Homo sapiens: one gene and its partners. The protein of the gene in region 2 interacts with the protein of the main gene of each other region in a pairwise test. Each region holds a gene or a part of one and is shown on either strand. Other genes may lie near its edges.

The links.
Region 1: the proteins of ROR1 (region 2) and ILKAP interact in a two-hybrid assay, tested with the Homo sapiens proteins (one study listed by BioGRID and IntAct).
Region 3: the proteins of ROR1 (region 2) and DUSP18 interact in a two-hybrid assay, tested with the Homo sapiens proteins (one study listed by BioGRID and IntAct).

What each region holds. Positions count from the first base shown.
Region 1 is NC_000002.12:238,198,620-238,210,173, forward strand, and holds the start of ILKAP (integrin-linked kinase-associated serine/threonine phosphatase 2C), read right to left. Parts: upstream 5,077-11,554; 5' UTR 4,935-5,076; coding exon 4,880-4,934; intron 1-4,879. UniProt on the Homo sapiens protein: Protein phosphatase that may play a role in regulation of cell cycle progression via dephosphorylation of its substrates whose appropriate phosphorylation states might be crucial for cell proliferation.
Region 2 is NC_000001.11:64,173,537-64,183,100, reverse strand, and holds the end of ROR1 (inactive tyrosine-protein kinase transmembrane receptor ROR1 isoform 1 precursor), read right to left. Parts: intron 5,674-9,564; coding exon 4,246-5,673; 3' UTR 1,603-4,245; downstream 1-1,602. UniProt on the Homo sapiens protein: Has very low kinase activity in vitro and is unlikely to function as a tyrosine kinase in vivo. Receptor for ligand WNT5A which activate downstream NFkB signaling pathway and may result in the inhibition of WNT3A-mediated signaling.
Region 3 is NC_000022.11:30,662,687-30,674,113, reverse strand, and holds the start of DUSP18 (dual specificity protein phosphatase 18), read left to right. Parts: upstream 1-6,238; 5' UTR 6,239-6,652; intron 6,653-7,175; exon of another isoform or gene 7,176-7,307; intron 7,308-8,554; exon of another isoform or gene 8,555-8,556; coding exon of another isoform or gene 8,557-8,621; intron 8,622-8,992; exon of another isoform or gene 8,993-9,159; intron 9,160-10,033; 5' UTR 10,034-10,110; coding exon 10,111-10,677; 3' UTR 10,678-11,427. UniProt on the Homo sapiens protein: Can dephosphorylate single and diphosphorylated synthetic MAPK peptides, with preference for the phosphotyrosine and diphosphorylated forms over phosphothreonine. In vitro, dephosphorylates p-nitrophenyl phosphate (pNPP).

The DNA of each region.
Region 1 (11,554 bases), on a different chromosome or scaffold from region 2:
ATCTGGAAGAGGCCCCTCCCCTAATCTTAAAAATATTAGAACCCTAATAAGAATACAAGACTAAAAATGTCCATTAATCATAGTTAATCTCATCTAGAACTTTTTTTTTTCCTCAGTTATCTACATTCTGGAGCTAAGTCTACTGGAAGTTATATACTATGCTGAGAAAAATACCCTTGGGTTGATCATATTCAGGTTAAAGGTTGCTGTATCCAATAAAGTTAAAAAAGGATGTTAAAATATTTTGGCTAAATTGTTTTTTATACCTCAATTTTTTCAACTATAAAATAAATCCAGGTGTTTTCCAAACACCACAGAGGTATTATCAGAAAAAAGGGGGGACAGGTTCCGCCACACCCCCCAACCACAGTATGAGTTTAGTGTATCCTTTCCACTTTCCTTAATGCTCATGCACATGGACTCATGCATTTTAATTTGTAGAAGACAGAGTCATACTCTACACAATACTCCACATATAGTGTTCACATAACCCATCAAGGCATGCTCCAGGCCAACACACCCAAGTCTAATTCATCCTCTCCAACAGCCACACATGGGAAGCATCTCCACTCATTCGACCAGATCCTTACTGATGGGTTCAAGCTTTTCCCAGTTCTTCATATGATAAGTGACGCCACAATCAACAATCTGATACATGTATTCCTGCTTAATCTGCTAGACTGCTCGTCAAAGGATATTAGTTTAAATCTGATAGAAGCCAAAATCTGTTCCCCAAAAAGTTGTAATTTTCACTCCCAAAACACTTTATGAGAAAGTCTACTTCGCTACACATTCACCAATGTTACCAACTGTTGCTAATCTGATGGGTGAAAAGGTAAATAGTTCCTCAGCAACTTTCTGTTGATGGGCCATTTGTATTCCTTACCTCTGAACTGGGAGGATACATCCTTTGACCATTTTTCTAGTGGGTTTTATTTTTTCCCATCAATTCTGTGAGCCTTTCTTATACCCTTAGTAATGTATATTGCAATTATTTTCTCGGTTTGTCTTTTGCCTTTATAGTATCATTTGTCCTGCAGAAATTTTAAATTTTTACATAGTCAAATTCACTTTTTTATGACTTTTTTCTTGTTCAACCCTGTAGTTTTACAATCTGTTTTCCTCTAATACCTTAACCTTTATGTTCAAATATTCTTCTTTTTTTTTTTTAATCGTAGAGACAGGGGTCTCACGAAGTTGTGCCAGGCTCTTCTCAAATTCCTGGCCTCAAGCCATCCTCCTGCCTTGTTCCCCCAAAGCGCTGGGATTACAAGTATGCGCCATCGAGCCCAGCCTCCAATTTTTTTAAAGTATTTTTAAGATGGTGTGGCCATCAAATATTTTATTTCCTCCTCAACAACTGACCATCAATTTTTAAAGTACTAGTGTAGCAACCAAATAAGTAAAAGAACCACCCTATAAAAGTGAAATCAAGTTACTGGCGAAGCAATTTTAAACCATGACACCTTCAACTGACATACATGGATTGTCAATATAAGCTGCCAATCTTAAAGACATCAGGTCGGCACTTTTATGGGTATGACATAGGAAAGTTCCATTTCTGCCTGATATGAACAAACACTTTTTTTTAGGTAAAATATATACATCTCTCCTTTAAAAAACTTGATTCATTCAGCAATTAAAACTTTTAAGGGCTTGGATGAAAACTACTAATTTAGCAAAATACCTGAAATATTTAGTGCATTCTATGTATTTTTCTAGATTATAAACATTTAAGAGGTTTAGGGGTGGGAACATTAGATGCAACGTTTAAAACAAAAATAAAAAGATCTAAACAAAATATTAATACATTTGATGTGATATAAGCAGTGTAGTATTCTCCCTTTGGACACTCAGTGCTTTCCCATAATTCATTTAAGACTGCGTTTTTCCACTTTTAAACAACTGTTAATGGCTCAGCCAGGCACAGTGGCTTACCACTGTAATCCCAGCACTCTGGGAGGGCCAAGGTGGGCAGAACACTTGAGCCCCAGGAGTTCGAGAGCAGCCTGGGCAACATGGCAAAGCCTTGTCTCTACAAAACATACAAAAATTAGCTGGCTGTGGTGGTGCGCACCTGTAGTCCCAGCTACCAAGGAGGCTGAGGTGGAAGAATCACCTGTGCCCACGGAGGTCGAGACTGCAGTGAGCTGTGTTTATGTCACTGCACTCCAGCCTGGGCGACACAATGAGGCTGTCTCAAAAATAATAACCCTGGCTAACATCTATAAAACACTATACATTCTACCCCACACTATGTGCAGCACCATACATACTGTACTAATTTGTACAGTAACAGTGGCAAGTGTCACCCCTTTTTACACATGTAGGAATAGCCACAGAAGGCACAGTTAGTAAGCGAAGAGCTGGATTCTAAACCAAGTAGTCTGGTTACACTTTCTGAACAACTTTTCTTGCGCTCTGGGAAAATAACGAGGTCTTTTATTGTTCACTGCATTAGAGATTTGTGGTACCCACATATCATGTGTGAGGGTCATGATGCACAGTTTAGACTCATTATTCCATTCACTTTAGCAATCAATATGATTTATTCAAAGTATGTTTTTTTTTTTTAAATCACAGTATTTTCACAAGTATGTGAAACCAGATTCTGTTCTTGTACAAACGATTTTAACCTGTCAAATCTCATCTTGTTGGTTGTAGCTAACAGCCTGCAATGATAACTATGGATCCCAATTGTCACTCATTTTAGTACTTATCCCTCTCAGCTTCCAATCATCTACAAATTCTGAGATCTTCTTCGTTTTAAAGCTATTTTTAAAAATACACTCAGCCAAGCAGGACCTGTTGACAATGTCAGTGCCCTCCTGGCAGATGGGGAGCAGCTGACCAATCCAATCTCAGGGTGGTCAGCAGTTTAAACACCATGCACCCCCTCTGCCACCCTTTCAGCTCAGTCAAGGTTGGAAACTGAGTTTGGAAAAAACGGCAACAGGATGTACCTTTCCCACTGTATCTGGCAAAAGGCTGCTAAGGTGCCAACCTATGAGATTCTGAGTTGCCAGGTTTTTTGTCAGTCAAGGGAGCCTGCTCCTGAGCAGAACCTAATTAATTGCAGGTAAAAAGCAATGGAGATTTTAAGACTCATAGGTTTACACGCACACTGGTGAATCCAAATGCTGTCCCAAATATATTCAGATAGAAATTATACTCCATTGACAAGAGAAAAAAGACTGCTACACAAATCCAATTTTTACCCACAGCTAAAACCGTGGTTATTTTGAAAATGAATGGCTGAGTCAAGTTCAAAGACTCCAGGACCAGTTACTGAGATGCTCTGTACCATCAGAACGGTCAGTGGGGGCAGGGCACGGTGGCTCACACCTGTAATCCCAGCAATTTGGGAGGCCGAGGCGGGCGGATCACCTGAGGTCAGGAGTTCAAGACCACCCTACCCAACATGGTGAAACCCCGTCTCTACTAAAAATATAAAAATTAGCCGGGTGTGGTGGTCGGCGCCTGTAATCTCAGCTAGTAGGGAGGCCTAGGCAGGAGAATTGTTTGAACCCGGAGGTTGCAGTGAGCTCAGATCTCACCATTGCACTCCAGCCTGGGCGACAAGAGTGAGACTCCGTCTCAAAAAGTAAAATAAAATAAAATGTTTTCTCGCCCAGAATTACTGCAAATCACAAGCCTGAACATCCTTGGAAGCTCAATTCAAACACTGCCTCCTTCCCCAGTCTCTCGGTGCCCGACAATCCCTCCTCAAGAGTCCTCAGCATTTCCCACAGTCATTAACTTTTGCCAGTTTTAATTACCGTAATTAGTACCCTTCAGAAAGCAGCTCTTAGAAAGCGAAGGCTGGGCCTTACTCACCTCCGTCTACCCTACAACAGCAGCTCCCAAACCACTGGTCTCCAGCCCCCGCTGGGTTGGCCTGGGGATTTAGTAACAGATTCGGAAACCCCACTCTCAGGGATTCGGATTTACTGGGGCTGAGGTGGGCCTGGAAATCTGAACGTCTTAAGTTTTCCAGGTTTTCTGCCCCCAAGTTAAATTTTGTAATAAGGCCCTAAACTACAACATCAAGCTGGAAGTCTTGCATATGAAATATTCACGCGTTTTGACAGATGAAACCCGGAGACTGTAACCCACAGGACGCAGGGATTAACACAGGCCCTGTTTCAAGCTGCTAGGATGCTGAGCTCAAACCACAGCCCACAGGGACTCCCACTGGCAGGGGCCAGCGCTTAGGAGATGAGCGGACCCCTTAACTTCAAGGAGAGGGGGAACTTCCCGTGGACCAGAAAAAAAAAAAAAAAACTACTGTTAATTATCACAAAATCACAGGATGACAGAGGAGGCATCCTGTCTTCCAGGCTTCAAAAACACGAAGGATTAAGATGGTGATTAATTCAATCTCCAGTGCAAATAAAAACGCCAAGCCCCTGAACTTGCACCGGCCCGGAACGCGGCCGTTCCACAGCCCGCGGGTGAAGTGCGGCCCGGAAGCCGCGGGCGGGCGACGCGCAAGGCAGCCCAGGCCGCGGGTGGAATCGGGGCGCGGGGGCCCGCGGTGCCGCCGGGCGTTCAGAGCCGGTCCCTCGGGTCGGCCCACGCGGTCGCGCCGGCGCCTTTCACCGCCACGCAGAGGGGCCGTGGCCACGACGGCTCGGCCCTTTCCTTCCTGCGTAGCGAAAATGGCGGAGCGGCCTCTCCGAGCTCCGCGAGCGACCGGGCCTCCGACAGGGCCGCCAGTGGGCCGGACGGGGCCTGGCCAGGCAGGAGCAGGCCCCGTGCAGCCCGCGCCGCCCGCCGCCTCCCAGCGCGGGCGCCGCCTCAGCCGCCCCGGGCCTCAGGCCGCCCCCATCCCGCCTGCTCTCCCTTCCCTGGCCGGCCCGGCGGCAACGCCGCTTACCGGCAGCCGGGCGCGGCGAGCGCTCGGGCTCCGGCAGGTCCCCGAAGAGGTCCATGGCGGAGGCTGGGTGGAGGCGGCAGCAGCGACAGACACTCAGCCCGCGAGCAGCGGCCGGGCTCCACACCCCGGGCGGGCGGCAGCAGCGGGCGGGCGACGGGCAGGGGCGGCCGGCGCCGTCAGTCACCTGCAGGGAGAGTCCCGGACGCCACCAATCGGCGCGCGGCGTGGCCCGGCCGCCCCAGAGGGCTGCGCGCGGGCTGGGCGGGGCGGCTGGGGGCGGGGCGGTGCGCATGCGCGTGGGCCCCTCCCGCGCCCCGACTGCGAGCCGGGCGGACGGCGCCGTCTGGGCCCCGCGGTGTTTCCCGCCTTGGCGAACCCCGGGCCCCTCCTGCTTTTCCTTGGCTGGGGGTGTCCGATTTCTGTCAAGTTTCGTTGAGTTCCTGTCCAAGAAGCCCTGTCCAGAGAGAAACGTCTGAGCTCAAGGGCAGCCCCTGATGCCTGGGAAGGCTTTCTGGAGCTCTTGCCATCTCTTCGGCTCGTCCTTTCACCACGGCGTGCCTGGTTTCTGGCCTGTTTTAGAGACTGAGAAACCGAGGCTTGGATGGAGCGGCCCTGGGCGTCAGGACGGAAACCTCAAAAGATGCCGGAGGGAAAGGAGGCATTCCCTGACTTGTCTGCACCCACTGGTGTCTGTGGGGAGCGGAGAAGAGGGGCTCCTCCTTAATGGTGTCCCCCTCCATGCCTGTAAAGAGAAAGGCGGCCACTGACATCGGGGAGCTGGCCTGGTTCTGCAGCCAGGACTTGGGGTTGGTCTGGCACAAACAGCTAGGCCTGGGTGTTCTCTTTGAATGTGAACAATTTCATAAAACACCAACATCAGGCCGTGATACAGATCAAGAGAAAAAAACAGACCACTGTGTAATCAAGTGTGAACACAGACAAAACAGGAACACTGTCCAAGCCACAAAAGTGACCACATTCCCCTCGTCTTGGCCAATAAGAGTGATTGCTGCTTCTTTACCATTACATGTTTAGCCTTTGTCTCGTCCTCCTGCCGTCTAGATAAGCTTCATCAAGATATCCAATCATGGAATCCTCCTCTTCCTGACATCCAATCCGGAGCAAAGGCCCGTTTCCATAAATGTTTCCCCAAATCAACTAACACAAACCCAAATCTTACACCTCCGTTCCAACATCGTTTACCCAAGTTCCCCAGGTTATGTGGTCTCCCTCCATGCAAAGAGTTTTCAGCCCAGTTCATTCTGGGGCAGATGTATTTCTGACGCTCTCTGGCTGTAGGACATGGAGGGAGCCCAACAAGGCTTCATGCCTCTCATCTGCGTGGCTTCTCACTAGCAACCGTTTGAGATATTCATGCTGCCTCCTCCATTACAGCAGAAACACTCAAGTAACAATGCTTGTAACCGTTAAAGAAAGAGGAAATAAATACAAAAAGCGGCTCAACATTAAAAGGTTTATTTCAGAGAATAAACCTGAGAGGGGATTCTGGCCAATTTCGATCAGGAGCGCTCTCTCTTACAGACTAAGCATTCTCTCTTACAGACTAAGGATATTTAAGGGTTTTGGAAGTGGGGGAACGTTTATTGCAGGGTTGGAATGTCTCTGGTCGGAGGGGAGGCTATTGGAGGAGAGGTTATTTCAGGGTTAGCATGTTTCTGGTTGAAGAGAGGTTTATCTTAGGGTTGGAATATTTCTGGTTATGCTGACATTAGCCGTTAGGCTGATGTTTTGGGGTAGGATTTAGGTGGTTTTTTAATCAAGGGGAACTTAGAAAGGTGGTGTTTGTCCAAGATGGCAATGCTCCTGCTCTATCAATCCAGTCTCTATAGTTATGAAAAGGACAAGGGGCAGCGCATTTTTTCTGGCTACTTCCTGCTGGGGGAGTGAGCAGAGAGTTCTTTGGTTTCAGATTGATTGTAGGAGTAACGCTGTCTGTAGATGTTTTTGGGTAATTGTCTGTGAGATGGCCATGATCCTGCTGGTTAAAAATCTTTGAAAAAGGTGGCCAGGCGCGGTGGCTCACGCGTGTAATCCCAGCACTTTGGGAGGCCAAGGCGGGTGGGTCACGAGGTCAGGAGATCGAGACCATCCTGGCTAACATGGTGAAACCCCGTCTCTACTAAAAATACAAAAAAAAAAAAAAAATAGCCAGGCATGGTGGCGGGTGCCTGTAGTCCCAGCTACTTGGGAGGCTGAGGCAGGAGAATGGTGTGAACCCAGGAGGCGGAGCTTGCAGTGAGCCGAGATCTCGCCACTGCACTCCAGCCTGGGCGACTGAGCAAGACTCCGTCTCAAAAAAATAAAAAAAACTTAGAAAAAGGTTAATTAAGCAGGGTAAGAACATTATTCCTAGGCATATTTTTAGGAGAGAGCCCAGGAATGGGATGACCCATATTAGGACTTTGTTTTTAAACCAGTAATTTATTTGGTTGTCTTGTTATTCTCTTAGCTTTTTAGCCCTTTCTTTAAGTTTTTTAGCAGCGTCTCTTACTAGGCCCAACTGATTGAGATAGAAGCAACATTTTTTACCGAATGAGAGGCAGAGGTCCCCTCTTTCAGTTGTTATAACATCTAATTCCTGTCTATTTTGGAGGACTACTCCAGCCAAGGAGTCTACTCCAGCCAAGGAGTCTAGTTGGCCTTGGACTCTTATAAGGCTTTGGGCCATATGCTCTAATGAACTCTGCAGTTCTGTTGAAAGAGATTTCAAGTATGTTAAGCAGGTGGCGAATCAGCCTGCTCCCAACCCAAGCCCGGAGGTTATACCTAAGGCAGCCATTAAAGGAATGACGTGGATGGCTCTCCTCTTCCTAACATATTGGATGGATGGAACGGGTAAAGATTGATTAGGAGGAACTAGTCCAATGGAGGGAGAAAGATAAACTAGGGTACAGGTTCTGGTCTGGTTGATGGGGAGACAAAGAAATATGTGTTGAGACCACACAAAAAGAACAAGCCTTTATTGTAAATACAAGCAGAGATATGGACAGAAAATAAGTGAATTAAAGATGAGGTGTTTGTTCTTTCCTGTGGTTCATTACTCCAGGTGGACAAGGAGGAGGCCTGGGAGACACCTACTATACTAGAGGTATAGGAAGAGTTATTTTTTACAGATTTAATGCGGTCGGATGCTGCACTATTGATATTGAGCCAAGGAAAATTGTGGGCACTAGGAGCAGCACAGGTTAGGCTGGAGGCATTGGCTGAGGGAAAGGCTGTCAAACGAGCCAGCTGCAGAAATGCTCCGTTCGCTTCAGGTGATACTTGGTAGTTAGCCTGGTTAGTTTGATGGTCAGAGGGGTGTTTAACAATGATAGTGTGGTTGCATAGGTTAGATGTTAAGGACCCTACAGGGAAATTTCCCTCCGAGGCTGAAAAGCAAAGTGAGGCTCATTATAAGAGGAGGAGTGTGTTTAGTTATGGGCCCTTCAATGGGAGGGCCGTGGGGCTTAAGGCGCTGTAGGGAGTTATCCTAGGTTTGAAATAATTTGTTGGCCTGATCGGCCCTGGAAGTGGGATAATCACCGACTAGAGTGTCAGCTCTTTCAAAAAAGGAAGCTCCTTTTTGGAGTTTATAAATTAGGGTTGTGTTTCCTGTTAAAAGGTCATGAAGGAATGTAGGAAGGGCTGTGTAAGCTAAGGAAGACAGCGATAAACACACCCAGCATTCCAGAGCAAAGGAAGAGTTAGCTTGCCGCAAGAGAGATTGTGTAAGGTTTATAGAGCGTTCTAGTTTGAGAGCAGTGAGGAGTGGTTGTATTGATGAGGTTGATGTGATTAGGGAATTTATATTGAAAGAAACAAGCAAAAAGCGAAAAAAGTTATTTGGGTAGGAGTAAAGTCCTGGAAAGTTCCTTGAAGCCATAGGTCCCATAGAGCAGTAACGAGCTGATCAGGATGTATAATGGGAGCTTCCTAAGGGCACCACTGAAGGTCTGTAACAAGGTTAGTTAGGAAGTGATGAAAGTTTGGGAGAGAAAGAGACATAAGCGGCTTATGTGGATTTCTCCTCCTTTTCCTCAGGGATTTGGGTGAGGCGAAGAGAAGTGGGTCCTGGGAGACACGAGAGAAGGCCGAAGGGGTTTCAGACTTGGTTGTTTGGGTATGTGGTGAAGGGAAGTCTGTTTTCTTGAGAGAAGTACAATGAAACCAGCTGGGGAGTCCCTGGAGTTTCGGTGCTGTGGGTGTGGTAAGGATGATCTGGTAAGGTCCCTTCCACTTAGGTGTGAAGCAGGAATTGAGGGTAGGACTGGGGTATTTTACCAGAACCCAGTCTCCTGGCTGTAGGGAGGGATTAAAGGAGTCGGTGATGGGTTGTGGCAGGTATTTGTCAGCATATTCCTAAATGAAATGGCAGATGGTATGTACAAGAGGGGAAATGAGAGGGATTGGTGGAGGTGGGGCTTGACCCTGAGGTGGAGCAGAGGGGCAAATGGTCTCCCATACATGAGTTCAAAGGTGCTGAGCGTTAGAAGTTTACATTGGAGCACCCGAATTTTTAGAAGGGCTAAAGGCAAAAGTGTAACCCAGTCTTTATGTGTTTGGTGTGAGTACCTGGTGAGGGTGTTTTTGTAGAATGCCATTCATTTCTTCAACCTTTCCTGAAGATTGAGGTCGAGAGGGGAGGTGCAACTTCCAGGTGATTTGTAGGGCTTGTGCAAGTGTTTGAATAATTTGAGAAATGAATTCAGGGCCATTATCAGATTGAAAAGAAAGAGGCACCCCGAACCTGGGGATGATTTCTGTTATTAATTTGGAGAGTAGGAGCTCGTTTGTTGGTTGTGGGAAAGGCCTCGACCCGTACCAAAAAGGTATCAACCAGAACTAAAAGAAATCAAACCCTTTTTACTGGGGGCATGTGGGTAAAACCAATTTGCCAGTCCTGTTCTGGAAGGTGTCCCTTGGATTGATGGGTTAGAAAAGAAGAGGGTCTAGTGTTGAAGTGGGGTGAAGCTTTTTTGCAAACAGAGCATTGATGGGAAATGGCTTTTAACTGTTCCTTTATGTCTGGGGTTATGTATATATGGGAACTTAAGAAATGCTGTAGAGGGGAATGGCTAGTGTGGAAGAGGTTGTGAATGTCCCATAGAAGAAATTGTTTTTTCAGGGTCAAGTAGGACTAATTTGTTTTGTATGAACCAGTATGGGGGTTTAAATTGTCTGCCCCTACTGTGATTGGTTGTTGTGTTTGGTGTTCTGGATAAAAGGAGGGCATATGTTGTGTGAGGGGAAATAAGTATTGGGGAATTGGGTCGTTGGCTGAGGCGTGTTTGGCCCAATAGTCAGCCTCATGGTTCCCTAAAGGAATGTGGCTTTTGTCTGATTGATGTCCTTTGCAATGGATAACCACAACCTTTTCTGGAAGTATAGCTGCCTTTAATAGATGATGGATGAGTTTTCCATTAATGATAGGGGTTCCCTTAGCTATGAGATAGCCCTGCTCACTCAAAATTTGGGCATTGGAATGGATAACGTTACAGGCATATTTAGAATCAGTGTATATATTCACTTGTGTGTTTTCTGCTAGAGTTAGTGCTCTTATTAGGGCAACTAATTCTGCTTGTTGGGAGGATGTGCCCAAAGGCAAGGGGGCAGCCTCTATGGCTTTCTAGGTGGGAGAGAGTGGGTATCATCATGATATCCTTTCAATGATGGCATATCCTGCTTAGAGGGGAGAGTGTTTTGATGTGCTCCCATCTATAAACCAATCTGGGTCTCCTTTTATGTGAGTGCAAGTAAGGCGGTGATACATAGAGAACTTCCAGTTAGATCAGAGCATGAGTGTTGGTCGGGGTCTAAAATTGGTGTTGAAGGTAAAGAGTGGCGGGGTTAGTCAGGGAGCATCTATGAAGAGATATAGAGGGTTGAAGGAGAGTTGAAAGTAGGGCTTGCCTGCGAGAGGATGAGCTGGAGGTGAGCACCTTGTGGCTGAGCATATCTTGTAGACTGTGAGAAGAAAATACCTGAAGAGGTTCATAAAACATGAGATTTTGTGCCTCAGGAATAATTATTGCTGCTGTTGTGACCAAAATGTTTAAGCAAGGGGGCCAGGTTTTATAAATGGGGTCTAGTTGTTTTGAAAATATACCACTGGTTGGAGGGAGTTTGCCATGAGTTGGGCTAATAGACCAAGGGCCTGATTATGAGAACTGTGTAAATACAGATTAAAAGGTCTTAGGGGGTTTGGAAGGCCTAAAGTGGGGGCCTGTAATAACACACGTTTTAGGTGAGAGAAAGCATGATAAAGATCTGGGGTGGGAGTGAGGAGTTGGTCAAGATTTTCTTTTGTGTGTTCATAAAGGGATATAGCAACAATGGCAAAATTTGCTATCCATATTTGGAAATATCCCACTAATCCGAAGAAGGAAAGTAAGTCCCTTTTTGTTTTAGGAAATGGGATTTGTTGAACACCTTGCTTTCGTGCTGACAGAATTTGGAGTTATGATAAGTCCTGGGTATGAAATTTTTGAACTTTTCTTTTGGATACCCAGTACCCACATTCAGCCAAAAAATGTAAAAGCTTGGTGATGTGTTGAATACAGTATTCTAGGGAGGGGGTGCAAAAGAGTAAATCCACATATTGAAGCAAAATGCTGGGTTGTAGAGGTAGTTGGGAGAGGTCTAATTGAAGTGCCTGACCGAAATAGTGAGGGC
Region 2 (9,564 bases):
ATGCTTACGTGCACATTACTAAGAATGTAATGATCGGCCTGGCGCGGTGTCTCATGCCTGTAATCCCAGCACTTTGGGAGGCTGAGGCGGGCAGATCACAAGGTCAGGAGATCGAGACCATCATGGCTAACACGGTGAAACCCCATCTCTACTAAAAATATAAAAAATTAGCCGGGCGCGGTGGTGAGTGCCTATAGTCCCAGCTACTCGGGAGGCTGAGGCAGGAGAATGGCGTGAACCCGGGAGGCTGAGCTTGCAGTGAGCTGAGATGGCGCCAGTGGACTCCAGCCTGGGTGACAGAGTGAGACTCCATCTCAAACAAACAAACAAACAAACAAAAGAATGTAATGATCACCCACCCCCGTGCCTTTAAATTAAGTCAGTTCTTGATCTTTAGAGTATATCAGAATCATGTGAGGCTTGCTAAAACACAAATTTCTGGGTCTCATCCCCAGGATTTCCTCTTTAGCATTTGAGCTATTAGCTGAAAAAAAAAAAATGCTGTCTAAATTAAGAGGATGAACTTCACCCCTAGCATCTCCCGTGGATCCCTTGATTTAGTACTTCAAAGTAGGGCTTGATAATTTGCATTTCTAACCAGTTCCAGGGTGCCGCTGTTTCTTTGCTCTGGGAACCACACTTTGAGAAGTACTGGGATAGGTAATCATCTTAGAAGATGTGTGGATAAAAGAGCTCCTCTTTATTCAGTATTGTAGTAGGCATTATGGGAAGGTGATGCTAGGAGTTTGCAGATGTTGGTGATTAGGGAATTAAGGGAATCTCAGAGTTGAAGGGATTGGGGATGGCAGGAGGGTCAAGAGCTGGGAGATAAAAGAAGGAAATGGGGGTAAAAGGCAGGCTGAGGAATTCAAGTGAGAGGGAGAAACCCAGCCTGACACGGATCTCACTGCCATGTGAAGGGATTGCTTTATTGAGTTTGATTGTTGAGGTGGTGACAAGAGCTGTACCTAAAACAGATGGATAAGGCCCTAAAGGTTTTATTGTATTCCTTTCTGTGTTAAATAGCAGATATGGACAACTTCTTTGAACTTTCATTATGGTACTCATTTTCCTTGACCATGTGTATTAATTGCCAGATGAGGAACTCTTTCTTTTGGGCAAATAAGGTCATAAAGATAAGTTGTGACAATTAAATGGCCCCATTTATTTTATCAGTATGTTTGGAAGCTAAGTTGGGCATGATAAGATGTACACAGCCTCTTCTTCTTTAGAGTCCAAAGAGGTGACTTTTGATATCTAAGATTATATGGAAATATTAAGGCAGAAAATGATGCAACTATATTCTTAAAATCAAATATTTTTTATATTCCATTGGTTGTAACTATTCAATATATTATTTTGATTTTAAAAATTCAAAGCTTGCCATATATAGGTGGATAGTATTCAGTTATGAAATCATTAGGATTCCCCTCTCCACCTATGGTTGCTAGCAAAATAATGCCCAAGTCTGTTTTAAAAGCCTACTGAAAAAAAAAAATTTAATGAAATAACAGCAAATAGGAATTGTGATTCCTCTTTCTATAAAATGTAAATGTTAAAATCCCCAAATACCTCTATGACAGCAATATTCAGGAAATAATATTTTATAGTAAACATTTTTAATAAACAGCAGCATAAAATAATCAGTGTTTAATATCATCTCTGGTGTGTGAAATACAAATGCATATATCCTTAATATAAAATAGCCTTTTTGTCATTACAATTCAATGCTTGCCTATTTGAAATGCCCATAATAACAAATCAAACATTAAGTAATACAGTGATTAAATGCATGCAGTGAAAATAAGGAAAGATATGGTAAGGTGAGATATCTGAAAATTGCCATTATATATTTGAAGAAAATCTATATCAAGTTAAAAACAAAGGAAACAAGAAAAACAGACCAGATATAAAAATGCAAAGATATATTTTCACTTCTGTGACACAAACCATAAGCATAGTTTTGTGCAAAAAAGGAGAAAAAGATCTGAAAATAAAGTCATCTTACAAAACATTGTCAACAAAGGAAAAGATATTTTTCAGCTTGTGAAAAAAATACTATTTTAATACAAAAGAGACTGTGTTATATAGTATCACAGTGCGATTATAAAATACATTATTACAAGTGGTTTTGAAATTTCATTTGCTCACTTTAATGTTTTCAGTTATTATAAAATGTTTAAAATAAATGTTATAGTTCTTTATAAAAAACTAACTTGAATTTACTTTTTAACCATAATAATGTTTTACCAGAGTAGGTATTTTACTGGCTCATGGAATGCTAATTTCCCTTTAAGGGACTCCTAGAAAAACTCAAGATTCACTGAAATTGTGTACTTAAAATAATAAATATTCTTGGAAAACAATTGATTGTCATATGATATACAAAATTGTGGTTTGAAGCTTCATCATTAAACAGTTGCATAGCAACAAAAGGATACAAATATTCTCCTCTACCTAAAGTTAAGAAATGTAACTTCTGAATCAGCTTATTTATGCCACAAAAATATGTTTTAATTTATCTCCCAGAAATCTGGATATAACCAATTCTTCTAGTTCACAGTACCTATAAGTTCATGTTTGTTATTTGAAGACTCAGGTTTGGGAAAATTGCAATGCATTTTGGTAAACATATTTTCTTGATTTCTCATGCTAGTTGTATTTTTTAAAAATGAAAACATCAATGTGTTTTTCATTCTCTTACATTCTCCTCATCAAATATCATTTCCAGGAATTACTTTTATATCCCGTAAGTCTCTTTAGAAGTCTCTTATACCTTTAAAGTAAAAATGAGACTTTGAGACATTGTTCTTAGAATAAAGGAGTTTTTTTTTAACAAGAGAAAAATCAAAAGTAAAATTACTTTCTATATAGAACTTGAAACGCATAAGAATTCTAAACTTGGCAAAAGATGGTCGGCAGGTAAATGCCATGAGCTGCACATTTGAAACCTCCCACTAAGGCAAAAATGGTCATGTTACTTCGGTTTGCTAGTTTAAAGAATTCAGTTCTTGGTAACTTTTGAAATGAGAACTCAGTACTTGTTTTTTAGGAAGACCATCATATTTTGCAAAATAGAATTAATTGCCTTTGGATTCCAACTGACTGTATGAATACATTGTTGTAATTCTTGGGGCGGGAATCAAATCTGTGAACATTTCCAGCACAGAAAAAAAGGGAAAGAAACTTTAAAATTACTAGACATTTGTATCATGATGGAGTTTCCTACTTCCCTAGAGCCCATTGACCATAAGCACTCCAATGCCTCGGACAACTTGTAAACAGGGAGTTGCAAGGGGTGGGCGTGCTCATCTGTAGCCACACACTTATTTTTCAGTGTTACTGGTTCCAGAAAACTCCTATGGGGGCTGTCCCCATGGGAACCCTTTTTCCTTTCCCACAGATGCTGATCTAGGCTGTGGGGCCATTTTCCTGGCTGTGCTTCCTTTGGCGCCTCATTCCTAATCCAGCAAAGAGAACTATCAACCAACAATCAATTCTAGCATCCACATCTAGCCTTCTTATGGTCTGATGCGCTGTGTTATTCCAAGGGCAGTGTAAACACACTGTGAGAAACTGTGGGAAAGACCCTCATGATCAGAGGAGGATTCACAAAAAGGCACACTCTACACCTTCCCAAAGAAGCACAACGACATAAAAGGCTTCAGGGCTTGTTATACTTCCCTTATGGCTCATTTCCCTCCAGGGTTTCAAATTTGGCCTGAAGTTTCTTCATGGATTCTGAACATCATTTCCATAAGAACATGCACAGAGTCTAAATTCAATCAATATAATTCCTGAACATCTGTCCTGAAGAAAAGACAGCAGGTAGACAAATGCTATGGTATATATACATCTGGGGGAGAGACCAGTCATGGTGACTGAAGGCTAAAACACAAAGCACCATTTGACTTTTGGTTTTATATTTAATCACAAGGTTCTTTTCCTCTTCACTGGTTTGCAGCTTTCAGTGCTCGAAACCACATGTTCCAATCCCAATGCCATGTCATGCACTCCAATGGAGTGCACATCCCACAATGTTTTTGTTTGCTTGTTTTTTTTTTTTTTTTTTTTTTCTGGCCGAGTGTCTGTCCTGCTTGGTAAGACACAGTGAAACTTCACAGAAGGTACTTGTTGCGATGTCTGCTAAATGAGAACCTTACTTTAATAAAAACATTTGAATATAAATCTTTTCTACGGCCGTCTAGTTTGTCCTGTATACCACATTTACAAAAGTTGTGCATTTTACAGTTCTGCAGAAATCATAGATTCGGTGTGTCCATGAATATTGGCGTCTCCTAGTAAAGATGCTTGCTTTGAGTCAATTTTGTAGGGTTTTTGAGATTTGTTGCCAAAAACGGTGATACCCATTCCACCAGGATGATTTGGAATTGACATGTGTGGTAGTAAAGGAATATTTGCTTCCTGATTGGATCCTGATGAGGGCAAGCTAGTCACATGGCCAGTGCTAGTCGACCCACTGGCACTGCTTGGGGACCGACTCTTGGGAGGTGGGCAGTGCTGAATCACTCTGGGAGGACCTGTTGGCTGGTAGTGGGCAGCTGGAAACGCTGCATATCCAGGAGGTATTGGGTATCCATTGATGGGAATGAATCGCTGGTTCTGAGGTATTGGCGGGCCAATGAAACCAGCAATCTGGCCCTGTGGTGTAATACCCTGGCTCGGGAACATGTAATTAGGATATCTGGGGTTACTGAGATTACTCACTGGGCTGGCACTGAGGGAGGTTGTCTGTGTGGTGGCATTTCCCCCTGAAGGAGTAGTAGAGCTTGTGTGACTTGAGAGTCCCTCCCAGGACCGAAGCCGGACGTGAATATCTTTAAATCTTGGTCTCCTAGAAGGAATCTCATTCCAGCACTCTGTCATGAGGCTGTACATTCTGGGTGGGCAGTCTTCAGAGCATGGTAAGAGCTGCCGTTTTCTCACCATCTCAATCACTTCCTGGTTACTGAATCCATAATATGGCTGGAGTCCAAAACTGAAAATCTCCCACAAGACAACCCCAAAGGACCAGATATCTGAATCAGAAGAGAATTTGCCATACATGATGGCTTCAGGGGGCATCCAGCGAATGGGCAGCAAGGACTTACTCTGGACCCTGTAGTAATCAGCGGAGTAAATTTCTCTGGAAAGCCCCAAGTCTGAAATCTTTACATGAAGTTGCTCTCCGATTAAAATATTGCGAGCTGCAAGGTCCTTGTGGACAAAGAAGTGACTAGACAGGTATTCCATGCCAGCTGCAATCTGAATTGCAATGTGCAGAAAATCTCCGTGGTCCAGGCTGGATTTCACAGTCCCATCTTCATCACTGCTGCAGCCAACATCAGAGTGTGGGGATCTCATGATGAGGAACTCATGGAGATCCCCCTGATTAATATACTCAAAAAGCATGCACACAGGTTGTTCCTGAGTGACGGCACCTAGAAGGCAGACAATATTGGGGTGGTGCAGTTCTGCCATTAGGGAGGCTTCTTGTTGAAATTCCGTCCATTGCTGGGGGTTGTTATAGTCTTTCAAGGTCTTGATAGCAACCAGCTGAGCATGGTCCATGCCTGGGAGATAGAGATGGCCTTTATAGATTTTTCCAAAGGCACACTCACCCAATTCTTCCATAAAGCGTACAGCAGAAAGAGGTAGCTCTTTAGCCTTGCTCTGTATGAAAGAGAGGAAAAACGTGGTTTAAAACATATCTTCAGGCAAGACAGCTTTGCATCCGAAAGGAGGGACGGGGCATATAGAAAAAGGTTCTATAAACAAATTCAATAAAATATTGTAGGTCTATATATCTTTCAAATCGTTGGCTGCAACTCAGGGGAGGTGCCATAGACAACTTTCCATCACTACCCTATCCCTTTCCCTCAACCCAGCCACAAAATGGTTTTTTGCTGTTGTCTAGAGTCTTGGTACTCAAACTGTGGTCTGGGGACCAGCAACATCAGCATCACCCAAACTTACTGCAAATGCAGACTCTTGGGCCCACCTCAGACCTACTGAATCTGCATGTGCATTTAACAAGACCCCAGTGGTTTCTGTGAAGATTAGGGTGTCAGAAGCACTACCACAGAGGCTACAGCCTGGTACTCAGAGCATTTGTAATCTGGTCCTAACTCACTTTCCTGACATGATCCCTTGCTACTTCTCTGTGTGATGGCATCACTTTAGTTAAATAGGTTTTCTCAATGTCCACTCCTGAAACCATTTACATTCTTGCCTAATACTTTTGTTCCTCCAATGTTCTGCCATTCTTCGAATATTTATTGTGCTAAAAGAGAAACCAAAACAAAAGATTGTCCTTCTGAAGTACTCACAATAGAGATGGGAAGGTCTGAAATGCGGTCTTCTCCATTGATTAAATCCTTTGTTTTCTAAAAAGCCTGTTTCAGGCCCCACTTCCCGCAAAACCTTCCCTGACCACTATGGTCATTTCTTTGCTAGACTCTTTTGCCTTTACTGTGAATGCCACCACATACACAAAGCAGTGTGGTGGCTGGTTACACAAGTGGCCTCCATAGCCAGTCTGAGTTGGAATCCTGCCTTCTCCACTTACCAGCTGTGTGACCCCAGATACAACATTTAACTTTTGCCTCAATTCCTTCATCTATAAAATGGGATGATAATAATTGTACTTACCATGTTATTGCAAACTTTTAATGAGTTAATGTTTGTAAAGCACTCAGACCTATGAGTTAAAGTTTGTAAAGCACTCAGACCTATGTCTGGCCCATGGTAAGTACTATTTAACTTTTTGTTATTATTATCAACTTGATGTTTCTGTTCTTTTTATGCATGTATTTTGTCCTCACAACGAGATTTCAAGGGAAATCTTATTGGAAGCACTGCCCTTCATACCAACGTATATCCCTAGGTCTTCGCAAGTGGGTTGTTTATTAATTGACCTTAAGACAGACAGGTGAAGGCATTAGCTCACAATGAAAATAAGTATTGAATCATGACATTTGATCTTGGCAAGTAAATGTCTATAATGTTATATGTTTTTACTATTTTAAAATGTACCTCAAATTTAGTCTGATGTTTCATTTAATTTGTTAGAAAAGAAAGTAATAAAAACAATGCATTTTACATACAACTGATTTTTCAAATAATCCCCATCCTTCAAATCCTTATTTTTTAAAAAAGAATACTACCCTGAAAATTCTAACTGAAACTGACAATGTTGAAATACATATGAAATCCAGAGCTCTCTGTACAGAGTTTAAAACAACAGTTTAGATAATTTGGTAAAAAAGTTCTCTTATCCAAACTCTACTAATTTAGAATTCATGATGATTAGATTTGTTCTAGGCTGATATTTTCCAGGGCAAAATGCCCACTAACCTAATTGTAAGTGTAAATAAACTTGCAGCAAAATACTCACTTAAAAGGACAAATTGGGATTGGGGATTTTGGAACATTAATTATTCTATGCAAATAAACTGTCTCATTATAAATTGGTCTTATTTGTTCATCAAAGCAGATTTTGTGAGGTTTATATTTGGAAATGAGTTTTAGAAAGTTTACTTGTGCTGAAAGTAATGGTAATTTGTTGCTTTAAACTTTCAGTAAATTAAATCTTATTGATCTAGTTCTATTCAATATAGTATTGTTTGTAATAGCAAAATATTATCAATGACCTCCATGTCCCTATAGAGAATATATTAAATCAATTACAGTGGAGCTAGTAAATAGAATATTCCACATTTGAAAAAAAAGAATGAGGACGTTTCGTATGTACTGGTATGGGAAGGTCTGCAAAATCCTTTGCTCAGCTAAAAATAAAAAGCAACAGAACAGTTAATGCTGGATGCTGCTTTTGTGTAAGAGAGAAGGAGAAAAAGAACACATGAAACATATTTCTTTGTATAAGAATAAAGAAACTACGAAAGGATACTTGGGAAATAGATAGCAGTGATTATTGGGGGTATGGAAGTAGAAACTAGAAAAAGGGGGGCAGAGGTTCTGCTTTTCTATGCTTTAAAATTTTTCAACCAGGTGAATATATTAAATTAAATAACTATTTAATTTATTAAATTACTATTTTTTTAAATTAAATAACTATTTTTTTAAAAAAAAAAAAACAATAGGCGAATCTTCCCATCTTACTGAACTAGGAAATATCTTTTGCAATTGTAAGTCCATCCACCATTTTTCCTTTTGCTTTTAGGGTCTGTATTCTTGTGGGAGCTTGTAGAATTCCTTTGAGAGAGCAAGGTGTGGGTGATGAGAAAGGTAACCAGTTGAGCCAACCCTACTTTTTTTGTCTTGTAGCACTCAGATGATTTTACTTTTGCTGGCAAGAGTAACTCAAGGTGAATTTTTCCTGCATGACATTAAGATTGGAGATTTCCATGAGAACTTTTCCTAATGATGTAAATAAATCCAGTTTAGGTGAAGGTCCCTTGAATGGCAAAGTAGACATCACTTACTTTTTGACAAAAATAAGATCTCTACGCTTTTGGAGACAGAGAACTTTAAGGGACTGAGTACTAAAACTTCTTTGTGGAAAATGGGAATTAGGAAGTAAACTCATGGAATATTAGGCTGGTATAATGAGGAGTTAGAAACCCAATACCCTCTCCTCCTTCACTGCTTGAAAAGTATCCATAGGCAGTATGGCATAATTCAAACTAAGTGAGCTTTGGACTCCTATAAATCTGGGTTTGCATCTTGAATCTGCTGCTTTTTATGAATAATAGTTAATACTTACATAGCACTTACTTTGTGCCAGATAATGTTCTAAGCACTTAGCAAATATTAACTTATTTAACACCATGATCCTGTGGCATAGGTCTTATAATATTAATCACTGACCTTGGGTGAATTTCTTAACTTTTCTGAACCTCTGTTTCCATATCTATGAACTAATGTACTATCTAGCTTGAGCTGTTGCAGTAGGAATTAAATACAACGATGTATGAACGTAATTCCCACCTAATAAGTGCCCTTTAAATCATTCTTATTATCCTTATTAGGAAAGTCATCCAGGAAGTAAAGTAATGCAAATGATTTAGATCCATTTAAGCCTTAAGTAGTTGCAGAGTGTTTAACTTTCTTCCTGTTAATCTTTCTCTGTTCTCCTGTAGTTGCTAGTTAAAAAAAAAAAATCCTTTAAAAATGACAGGGAATTTGTTTTGGAGCTTGAGGGTGGGTGAGAAGTTGAGTGGCCTGTAGCTGGCTCCTCTGAGATGTGAATGAAGGTGAAGGCAACAAGAACTCGTGTGGAAGAGTGGATGGTAGCAGATGGGTAAAGGAAGCAAGCCAGCCAAACTTCTGGAGGTGGGAAAAGAGGAAGAGGTGGACAGGACCTTGGCATCAGCCCTACACATGGCCTTGGGGCTTCGTGGCTAAGAAGGCCAGCTGCATTCCCCTCCACTGAGGTAAGCAAATTTGTTCTCATATACTTGCCTTTGGAAACAGAACGCCTAATTTTGCTATTTTACAGATGGAGAAAGGGGCTAAAGAAAGTATCAAGAATTTTCAGGAGAGCCGAAAGAGCCACACTTGCAACTCCAAGGCTCTCTGTTTTTCGGCCCCAGCATTCTGTTT
Region 3 (11,427 bases), on a different chromosome or scaffold from region 2:
GGATTCCCGTCTCCAGTGCCCCAGCTTTCTGAGCTGGTCTGTCATAAAGTTTTTATCAGGTGGTCTGATCTTCATTAGTGGCTGATCTCCTTATTGCTCTTCTCTAAAGCTCTCTCCACACTATATTCATTCCATAAATACTTTGACTCACAGGGAGTCTATTTATTTGTAAAAAGTGGGCATTAAGCTAGGTAACTCCAAGGCCCAGCGCAGTGGCTCACACCTGTAATCTCAACACTTCGGGAAGCCAAGGAGGGCAGATCACTTGAGGTCAGGAGTTTGAGACCAGCCTGGCCAACATGGTGAAACTCCGTCTCTACTAAAAATACAAAAATTAGCCAGGCGTGGTAGCGCACGCCTGTAGTCCCAGCTACTCGGGAGGCTGAGGCAGGAGAATCACTTGAACCCAGGAGGCAGAGGCTGCAGTGAGTTGAGATCACGCTGCTGCACTCCAACCCGGGTGACAGGGAGACTTTGTCTCAAAAAAAAATAAATAAAAAATAAAAAAATAAAAAAAAGTAAAAGGAAGCTTCTGGACAGCTGAAAGTTGGCACAGCCCTCAGGTATACATAAAGCCAACTCAGGAGCTTCCAGTTAAGAGTAGTTCACAGTTCCTTGCCCCACCTAAGGTGTACGACATTCCCCACCCAGTTGGCCCCGAACCTATCGTGGGCCACTCAGAATACCCCACACCACCTGGCCACAGTGATTAAAACAGGGATGGGCCCATGAACCAACTGGGGCCAACTGGAGTCCTTCCTCAGGATTTGTCTAACTGGAGCAGCAGTGGAAGTACTTCTTGTGGTCTACAGGCCAAGGTTTCCTGTGGCTCTGCTCCCCAGGTTCAGCCAGCCTGATAATGATACTGGTGTTCAGAAAGCCACAAAGGGCTGGGCACGGTGGCATATGCCTGTAATCCCAGCACTTTGGGAAGCAGAGGAGGGCAGATCACTTGAGCCCAGGAGTTTGAGACCAGCCTGGGCAATGTGGTGAAACCTCATCTCTACTAAAAATTCAAAAAATTAGCCAGGCATGGTGGCATATGCCTGTAATCCCAGCTACCTGGGAGGCTGAGGTGGGAGGACTGCTTGAACCCAAGAGGTTGAAGCTACAGTGAGCCTCATGCTACTGGCCTCCAGCCTGGGCAAGAGTGAGACCGTGTCTCAAACAGACGAGACGGGATGGGACGGGACGAGACGAGACACAATATAAAGACAATGAAGACAGAATGGAAGACATACCTGGTGGTAGTACAGCCCCTGGCTTCTCTCCCCTAAAACATTGGCGACTGTGCCCTATCCATCCTTGATTATGTAAACCCAACTTCTCTATTTTGCTTGAACTAGTTCAAGTTCAGTTTATATTACCTGCCACTGAGAGGATCTTAATAGATCCTATTTTTACAAATGAGAAAGCAGAGTCTGGAGGAAGTGTGATTCACCCAAGGTCACACAAAGCTGGCCTGCCCATCTAGTTCCACTACATCCCACCATTGGAAGTTTAGCAGAGGCAGAAATGCCCAGGTCTCTGCTCTGCTTTTGTCTTTGTGACCTTCAAGAGGATCTGGCACCATCTCTTAAGGATCTCCAACTGTTTTTGATGTTAGAATCCTGTGGGCCCATCCAGACTTGACCCTGGAACATGGAGAGAAGTCAACAGAGTCAAGAAGGGGCAGAAGCTCAACCCTGGGCTTCCTGCTCTGTTTGAAAAAATGAGTATGTTATTGGTGTCCATCTTTTTCATGTGTCTCTTCCTAGCACCCAACACAGTAGCTGTCCCAAGCAGGCCCTAAGGACAGGTTTAATGAGTTCATCAATTAGGGTCTATGGGAACAGTAGGTGACAGCACTCAGGCTTTTGAGTAAGCCTGAGTCAAACTCTTACCTGTCCATAAGCAAAAAGTGGGAGAAGAGCCTCAGTTCTCATCTGGAAAATGGGGATAATCCCCAAAGGAAAAAACTGACAAGATGCTGTTAATGCTGATTCAAACTCTAGGACCCAAGACCTTAGTTTTTTGGGGGTTTTATTTATTTATTTTTGCTTGTTTGTTTTTTTGTTTTTGTTTTTTTTTTTGAGACGGAGTCTTGCTCTGTTGCCCAGGCTGGAGTACTATCACAGCTCACTGCAACCTTCACCACCCGGTTCAAGCAATGCTCATGTCTCAGCCTCTCATGTAGCTGGTATTACAGGCACCCACCACCATGCCCAGATCAGTTTTGTATTTTTAGTAGAGACGGGGCTTCGCCACATTGACTAGGCTGATTTCAAACTCCTAACCTCAAGTGACCGTCCTGCCTCCCACAAAGTGCTGGGATTACAGGCATGAGCCACCGCGCCCAGCCTAGAACCCAAGACTTTGTATGGGAGAAAATAAGAATCCATTCATGGGTTCCCTAGAGAGATAATGTGCTTTCAGGAAAAACAAAAACAAAAACAAAACCAAGAGACATGGAGTCTTTCTAGCCTCCTTAGCCTAGGAACAGGTGTGACACCTTGGGCAAGTCAGTAACCCTGAGTGTGAATTGCCTCCTCTGTAAAACGGGGCCTGCCTTAGAGCACCTTGGGGACTTCCTATCACCTTTATGATCCCCCAGGATATAGAGAGAATGAAATGAATATGGGTCAAGCCACTAACACCCTCTAATGCAAAAGCTTGTGGCTACTTTACCTGCACCTCATGGAGTCGTTGTGCTATGAGCTTGTCATAAAAACCCACCCAAGATAAACTGCTCTTTTTATATGAGTAAAAAATTTTTCACTGCTGCTTCACTGGAATCATTAAGCTGGAGCGGGGAGGGAAAGGTGACACAGGTTACAGATGGCTGAGGCCAGGGCCAGAGCAGATTTGACAGGGTCCTGGGGGAGTGGCTGAGGCTTCCCCGGGTATCTTAGGACAAGTGCAGCTCTGTTACAATTTTCAGAGAAGCAAGGGAGTAACCACAGTTTCTTCTTGTGGAAAGATATGCTAAAGGGGTGTTTCATGGACACCCAGAAGAAAAGCAATTCTGTGTTTGTAAAAGGGCCCCAGTGCAGTCCACAAGAGAAGGGTTATCAGGAACTCAGAACCATCTTCCAAAGCAGTCTTTTGTTTTTTTGAGATGGAGTTTCATTCTGTCTCCCAGGCTGGAATGCAGTGGCACAATCTCGGCTCACTGCAACCTCCACCTCCCGGGTTCAAGCGATTCTCCTGCCTCAGCCTCCCGAGCAGCTAGGATTACAGGCATGCGCCACCACACCTGGCTAATTTTTGTATTTTTAGTAGAGACGGGGTTTCACCATGTTGGCCAGGCTAGTCTCGAACTCCTGACCTCAAGAGATATGCCTGCCTTGGGCTCCCAAAGTGGTAGGATTACATGCGTGAGAGCCACCATGCCCACCCAGCCAAAAGCAGTCATCTTGATGATCCTTCTTAAGGATGAAATGGGAGAGAGGGGTCTTAGAGGGGAGGAGTAAAAGTTGTAGAGTAGGGTTCGAAGGATGAATTTGAGAGGTGTTTAGCTTGGGGAGCACTTGCTCTAGACCCTGTGCCTAAAGGGGATCTGGGAGGCGGGGGCTTGGGGGAGTATAGATCAGAGCAGGGAGAAATAAAAGTAAGAGTTTGGACAGATGTTAGGCTGGTTAATAGGGGAATTCCAGAAGAAGGTTTGGGGAAAATTTAGAATAGGGAGGTGTGGGGTGGACAGGGGTTTTAGGAGACTCTGAAAGGTGAGGTGAAACATGGGGTGGGGTGGGGTAGAATGGAGCTAGGTACTCCAGGTGAAAATATAACAATCTGGTCAAAATGAGGAAATGCTGAAGAGTGGATATACTTCTAAGCACTGCATTTTCACTTTTTGATAATTTGGTTACACCATGAAGTAGTCTTACAAATAAATACCTTTAAATGGTTTTGCCCATTTAAAAATAATTCTTCAGGATCAGGCACAGTGGCTGAGGCCTATAATCCCAGCACTTTGGGAGGCCAAGGTGGGCAGATCACTTGAGGTCAGGAGTTCGAGACCAGCCTGGCCAACATGGTGAAACCCCATCTCTACTAAAAATACAAAAATTAGCCGGGTGTAGTGGTGAGCACCTGTAATCCCAGCTAATCAGGAGGCTAAGGCAGGAGAATCACTGGAACCCAGGAGGCAGAGGTTGCAGTGAGCCAAGACTGTGCCACTGCACTCGGGCCTGGGCCACAGAGCTAGACTCTGTCTCAAAAAAAAAATTGTTCATATTTTCTTTCTAAAATGCGGAAACAAAATCTACAGTATGGAAGCAATTGAATAAATTTTGGTATGTCATAAAATAAAATACATGTAATTGTGTATGAAACATAGACGGGTGGTATATTAGATGGGAGAAAAAAGCAGGTTACTAAAAAGTGAACTTTTGTGATGTATCTTTTTTAAGTATAAGCATGTTGTAACATATATATATATATATATATATATATATATGAATGGATTCTGATCAAAATACACCAAAATGTTAACAGTGATTGTCCCTAGCCACTTATGCTGCTGGCCTGTCTTGTCTTCTTTTTATTTCTTCGAGACGGGGTCTCACTCTGTCCCCCAGGTTGGAGAGTAGTGGCACAATCTCAGCTCACTGCAACCTCCACATCCCAGGCTCAAGTGATCCTCCCACCTCAGCCTCCTGAGTAACTGGGACCACAGGTGAGCCACCAAGCCCGGCTAATTTTTTGTATTTTTGGTAGAGATGGGGTTTCACCCTGTTGCCCAGGCTGGTCTCGAACTCCTGAGCTCAGGTGATCCAACTGCCTCAGCGTTTCAAAGTGAAGTGGTGGGAATACAAGCGTGAGCCACCATGCCTGTCCTCATTTTTCTATAAGTGTACACTACTTTTATAATTGGGTCAAAAAAGACAACTGTAGAAGGATAAAAAATATTGAAGGACTAGTTTTTCTAATGCATTTTCAGCCTATTTGGAACTGGAGTGTTGTGAATGTTTTCATATTTACAAACTAGTATGAACAATCCAACTTCTCAATCTCTCATTTACATTTTTCTGACCTCTATGCATAGCCTAGGTGTGAGGTGATGGAAAAAGCTGGTTTAGAGATCAAGATGCTCAAACACAAAAGTCCCCCAAATCCTGAGAGTTTTTTGTTTTTTTAAAAAAATCCTTAAAACATTTAAAGACGCATAAAACTCTTCACCCACTCAGTGGTGCAAAAAATTTACCAATACTAGAAGGGGAGGAGGCTGGCAACGACTGGAAATATTCCCTTTCAAGTAATAAATAATGGTTATTTTGAACCAAATTGCTTTCCACCTCAAGTCCTCCATGGATGGGAGCCTGGAGGATGCAGTGATGGGGGTTATGGAATGGAAAGGAGCGTGGGTAATTGGGTTTGTGAGGATTGGGGCCAGGCAGAGGGAACTGGGGGCTTTTCCAGGACCACTGGGGAACACAGAGGCTGAGAAGGGGAGTGTGGGATGGGTTCGAGCTGGGGAGGACCTCGGCCTCGCCAGGCTCTAAGGAGAGTCACAGCTCACCACCTAGGGCGCTGGGACCACACGATGTCATGCCTGGGAGACTGAAGGGCTAGGACAGATTCTGAGAAAATGTGGACTGGAGATGGGGATTCCAGGTTCTCCCGGGAGTCCAGGCGAGGGAGTTCCGGCTTCAGGGAGTCCCAAGAGCTAGACTGGGAAGGGGCTGGTGCCCAGGACTATGAGAAATCCAGACTCCCCTGGGGTGTGAAAAAGGGCCGAGGTCCGGCTGAGGGAGAGCGAGTCTGAAAGAGTTCGGGCTCCCTTGCGGGTCCGAGAGTCTAACGAAGGCTCTGGGCACCCAGGCCGCACCTGAAGAGCACCAACGACTGCTCGGTCCGCGGCGCGGGAAGGAGATGTGCGGCTGAACCCCTACGCCGATTACTTAGCGGCGGCCCTATCGAGAGGGTGGTTCGAGCCCGAGGTGGCGCCGGTCCCGTAAATCGTGGAGGATCTCAGGTCCCCTGTGACCAAGGGCGTAGTCAGCTGTGTCATGGCGGCTTCCCTGTTCGAGAAACAGTTGGAAACTGGAGGCCGGTTGGGAGTCATGGTCGTTGGGCGCACGGAGGCCGGTTGGAAGCCATGGTCGTTGGGCGCCAGGAGGCCGGTTGAGAGCCGTGCTCGTTGGACGCGCGCAGACCTGGAGTTAGTCCCTGGGCGGAACCTGGAGCCCCGCGCGGCGCGTTGCCTGGGAGACGCATAAGGGGGCGGGGCCGGGGAGGGAGTGTCGCACATGCGCACAGAGCCCGGGCGGCTACGGAAGCGGTGAGACTGTCTCTCGGCTGCAGCCCTGGTGCGACCCGGCCCGTTGCCGTAGAGATGGGCAGGGCTGGATGGAGTGGGGTGCGGTGAGCTGAGCTGACCCTGCTTCGCCACGGGGACTGCAGTGACCCCGGCTTGCCGGCAGGGCGGGTAACAGGTTGAGCCAGGGTGGGGCTGCTCAGGGGCGTGGAGCCGAGGCCAGGATTTCTCTGAAGACCCGGCACAGGCTATTCCTTTCTGCGACGAGCCCATTGCTATGGAAACCAAAGCGTTAGGCCAGCGGGGATTGAGGCTGCGGGATCATGACGGGTCTCTCTCCCGAAGAACCTTGCCTAAGGCTTCCCCAAGCGGCTACTTCCTGAGCGAACCCGCCCACCCGCCTGAAGGAGAGAGGTAAAACCCTGGGGGTCCTGACACTAAGCAGGCGAAGAAGCCTATTCCAATGCCAGCTCCCCTAGGAAACCTACCCGGCCCACCCCTAGAAGTGATGCTTCGCTCTCGTTAACTCTTGGACTTTGTTCCATGTTTATAACTTAGTATTTCACGAACGCCCCGCGGTGTTTGTTCATTTTTCCCACACATAATGGACCATAAAGGTCGGCTTCTTTGCTTTATGACTCGTTCTGAACAAGTCCTTTTCCGCGCTGTGTCTCACTTTCCTCTTTTGTAAAATGGAAATATTAACTCTAGACGCCGGTCTGATTAGGTTGCTTTGAAGATCGAACCAGATGAGGGAAGCCAAATACTTCATAGGCTGTAAAGTGGTGAAGCTGAACTGCTACCGAGTTGCTATTTTTTTCTCCTCCTCCCTCTCAAGCTAAACGTTCTTTAGATCTTTTGTGATTTCTTCAGGTGGTCTTTGCGACTCCCTAGGCTCCGACCTGGAAGAAATCTTTTTTACACTTCCCTTTCACAGAGCCCTGCATTTTAACTTCCCTATCAGAAGCGAGAAAAATAGTTATCATTTTGAGAGGGCTTACTCTATGCCAAGCCCTGAGAAAACTCTTTACGTGGATTATCTCGTTTAATTTCACAACATCCTTTTAAGGTAGGTACTGTTATCCTATTTTCAAGCTCTGTCTGCCTGTAATTGCCTGTTTACTATCTGTTTCTCCCACTAGTCTTTGAGCTCCCTGAGAAAAGGGGCCATGCCTGTCTTGTACATTTCAGTATCTCCAACACCTAATACAGTGCCTGATAGAGATTGCTTTTTTTTTTTTTTTTTTTTTTTTTGAGATGGAGTCTCACGCTGTCTCCCAGGCTGGAGTGCAGTGGCACGATCTTGGCTCACTGCAGCCTCCGCCTCCCGGGTTCAAGCAATTCTCCCGTCTCAGCCTCCTGAGTAGCTGGGACTACAGGCCCATGCCACCACGCCTGGCTAATTTTTGTATTTTTAGTAGAGACGGGGGTTTCACCATGTTGGTCAGGCTGGTCTTGAACTCCTGACCTCAGGTGATCTGCCCGCCTCGGCCTTCCAAAGTGCTGGGATTATAGGCTTAAGCCACCGTGCCCAGCCCTGATAGATATTTCTTAACTAGCATGAAAATGACTCCTCGCATCACTACCCTCACCTGCAAGAGCATTGTCACTTCTGCAGACTTTTAGTGGCTATAATGAACAGCACATTCCTCTATTCCCGTTACCCACTGGGCACTGGTTTGGGGGGACATCAGTTCACTTCTCTATGGATTTTCTGATGACGAGGATCCAGAACATTCCTTAGCATTTAGACTTCCATCTGGGTTCAGGAGGCTTTTTCTTTGCCCTTCATATCACCTCTGTAGCAAGCCAGCCCTCTCTGTCCTTCCGGGAATGAGCCTGATGCATTTGAGTCTGGGGCATTGGCAGGTAGGATTTGCCTATACAACCTTTGGTCTTTCTCTTTAGTAGCCTCAGAACCACCCCCATCCCCACCCAGCCCCTCCCTGGAATTCTGGAGACACGCTGCCAGAGAACTCATTCTTTCCAGAAAACCTCTCAGAAGGCAGAGTCATAGCTGTTGGGAGTCATTTCTTCATTCAACAAATATTTATCAAGCACCTACTTGTGGGGACACAGCGCTTGGCACTAGTTGGTGATAGAGTGGGAGTGAAGACAGACACCATCATATCCCTAAAGGGCTCACAGTCTCTTGGGGAGACAGACATTAATCAAATAATCAGACAGATCGGAGCAAAACTACGTCTTCAGTAAGTGTTAGGAAGGAGAGAACATAGGGCTAAGAAAGCCTGGAGCAGAGTTGGTCAAACGTGAGGGAGGGGTGTGATCTAAGGAGATTTCCCTTAAAACAGTTACCTTTAAGTTGATATCTTAAGGCTCCTCAGACTTCTGCAGTCCTCTGCTGAATGGACCAGATCAGGATCTGATGGGTTCATAAGGAAAGAGACTGAGAGATCAGCAGGGGCAAAGGCCACTGGCTGGAGAGGACAGGTTGTCCCTAAGGAACTGTAAGTGGCTCGGTTCACCTGAGGCCCTTCAGAGCATGGAGAAGCCTAATAAGAGGCTGGAGAGACAGGCAGGAGCCAGGTCACAAATGGCCTTGACAGCCAAACTAAGTGGCTCCATCTTATCCTCACAGTGGATAGCCACTGAAATATATTAAGCAGGGAAACAAAACTTTGGCTCCTCATTTCTCGTGCCTGGTGAAGACTGCCACTTGGCCTTGAAAGGTGTGATCTAAATCCAAATGTCCCTATTTCAGCGGAATGTATAAAGATGTCCTGGTTTTTGCAGCTTTGTTTAAGACTGAGAAAGTGAGGGTCCGAGAGTCTAATGAATGCTCTGGGCACCCAGGCCGCACCTGAGGAGCACCGACGACTGCACGGTCTGCGGCGCGGGAAGCAGATCTGCGGCTGAACCTCTACCCCAATTACTTAGCGGCGACTGAGCCTATCGAGCAGGTGAAGGGAAGGGGTCTGCCTCTCCCTGGGGTGTGTTTCACAGCTCTGCTGCAGGCAGCATGATGCAGGTGTGGCAGGTCTTCCTAAGGCCCTGCTGTCTCTGTGCTTGTCCCTGGGGTTGCTGTGGTGCCCATTATGCTGGCTTCCAGGAAGCTTTCAGCCACTCCCTTTCCCAGGCCTTCTTCAGAGGCAAGGTGCAGGAGCATGTCTAACAATTTAGGACTTTGTATTTGACATCAGCTTCGCATGGGCATATCCTGTCTCTTTAAAGAGATGGTTCTTAGAGGGGGAAAATGGGAACCCTCCCTACTCTTATACCAGCCTCCTCAGTGACTGCCAGCACAGTGGGCTCTGGTTCCATGCCACTGGCTCAGGACCTTATGATTTGGGCATAAAGTCAGAAGACTGAGGAGGAAGACTGTACAAATGGTTCCCACTCAGAGGGGCTGGAAGGAAGGAGAGAATTTGGAAGAGCAGCAAGAAAAGGGCTCTGTGAGCTTAAATGGAGAATCAGGCCAAGGCACAGCTGAGGGACACAAGTCATCTGCCCAACTAGAGCTGTGGGACCCCTCAAGGGAGGCCTCAAGTGCCAGACTTGGGGACTTGCCATTTGTCCTATAGGGCAGTGCACATTAGACCACCTGAGAAGCATGCTGAAAATGCAGATTCATGCTCTTCACCCCGAGAGTCTGACTGTGGGTTTGGAGAGGGACCTGGGTATCTGTACTTTAAATGAGTTTGCTGGGTAGTTCTGCTGTGATGGTCAGAGGACTGCCTTGGGGAATGCTATAAGCCTATCCATCCATTTCCCAGGGATCCCCTGGAATTGGCCCTCTGGGCACCTGCCCTCTAAACATCCTCTCCCTCTCTGCAGTTTTCCATGGACACAGCCTAGCAGAAAGACGCAGCCTTCGTGCTTCGCTGACTGCTGACCACTGACCCACCGCCTTGATGACAGCACCCTCGTGTGCCTTCCCAGTTCAGTTCCGGCAGCCCTCAGTCAGCGGCCTCTCGCAGATAACCAAAAGCCTGTATATCAGCAATGGTGTGGCCGCCAACAACAAGCTCATGCTGTCTAGCAACCAGATCACCATGGTCATCAATGTCTCAGTGGAGGTAGTGAACACCTTGTATGAGGATATCCAGTACATGCAGGTACCTGTGGCTGACTCCCCTAACTCACGTCTCTGTGACTTCTTTGACCCTATTGCTGACCATATCCACAGCGTGGAGATGAAGCAGGGCCGTACTTTGCTGCACTGTGCTGCTGGTGTGAGCCGCTCAGCTGCCCTGTGCCTCGCCTACCTCATGAAGTACCACGCCATGTCCCTGCTGGACGCCCACACGTGGACCAAGTCATGCCGGCCCATCATCCGACCCAACAGCGGCTTTTGGGAGCAGCTCATCCACTATGAGTTCCAATTGTTTGGCAAGAACACTGTGCACATGGTCAGTTCCCCAGTGGGAATGATCCCTGACATCTATGAGAAGGAAGTCCGTTTGATGATTCCACTGTGAGCCATCCCACGAGCCCCTGCATTGGAGTCAGAGGTACAGATCTATTGTTGATCTTACACCAAGATCCAAACTTGAACATTCTACTTTTGTTGATACAGAAAAAAACAGATGATGCCTTTTATGAGCACAAAAAAGAGTTGCTGTAGCTTTTAACTTTATAATCCATTTTTTTTAAGATTAAACTAATTGTGAGATGGTGAAGATAAATTTTCTGCCCTGTGAGTGACACTGGCCAGGGGATAGGTTGAGGCAGATGGTGCCCAGAAGAAAGAGGGCAGCACCCATTGCACATGGCAGGCCTGGAATCCTGCAGCCCTCCCCAAAAACAGATTGACCCAGGAATGAATCTGCTACAATTCCACCTCATTCTTTCACACCCAGAGCCAGAGCCTTAAGCATCATGGTACCTCTTGCGCTTCTTACAGTGAGTGCCAATCTACTAGATAAATGGCCTTCAGGCAGTGCTCCAGGAATCCTGGGGGGTCCCAGGCCACCTCTGCTTCCACCTTCACTATAAGTGGCCCAGTTCTGGTTTTCTAGATTGTACTTATGCATAAGATAGTTTTTAAAGAAAGCATTCCACTGTGTAAATTTTTTTTTGTCTTTTTTTGAAACTGTCCTGCTCTGTCACCCATCCTAGAGTGCAGTAGTGTGATCATGGCTCACTGTAGCCACAACCTCTCAGGCTCAAGTGATCCTCTTACCTTAGCCTCCTGCGTGGCTGGGACTACAGATGTTTGCCACCATGCC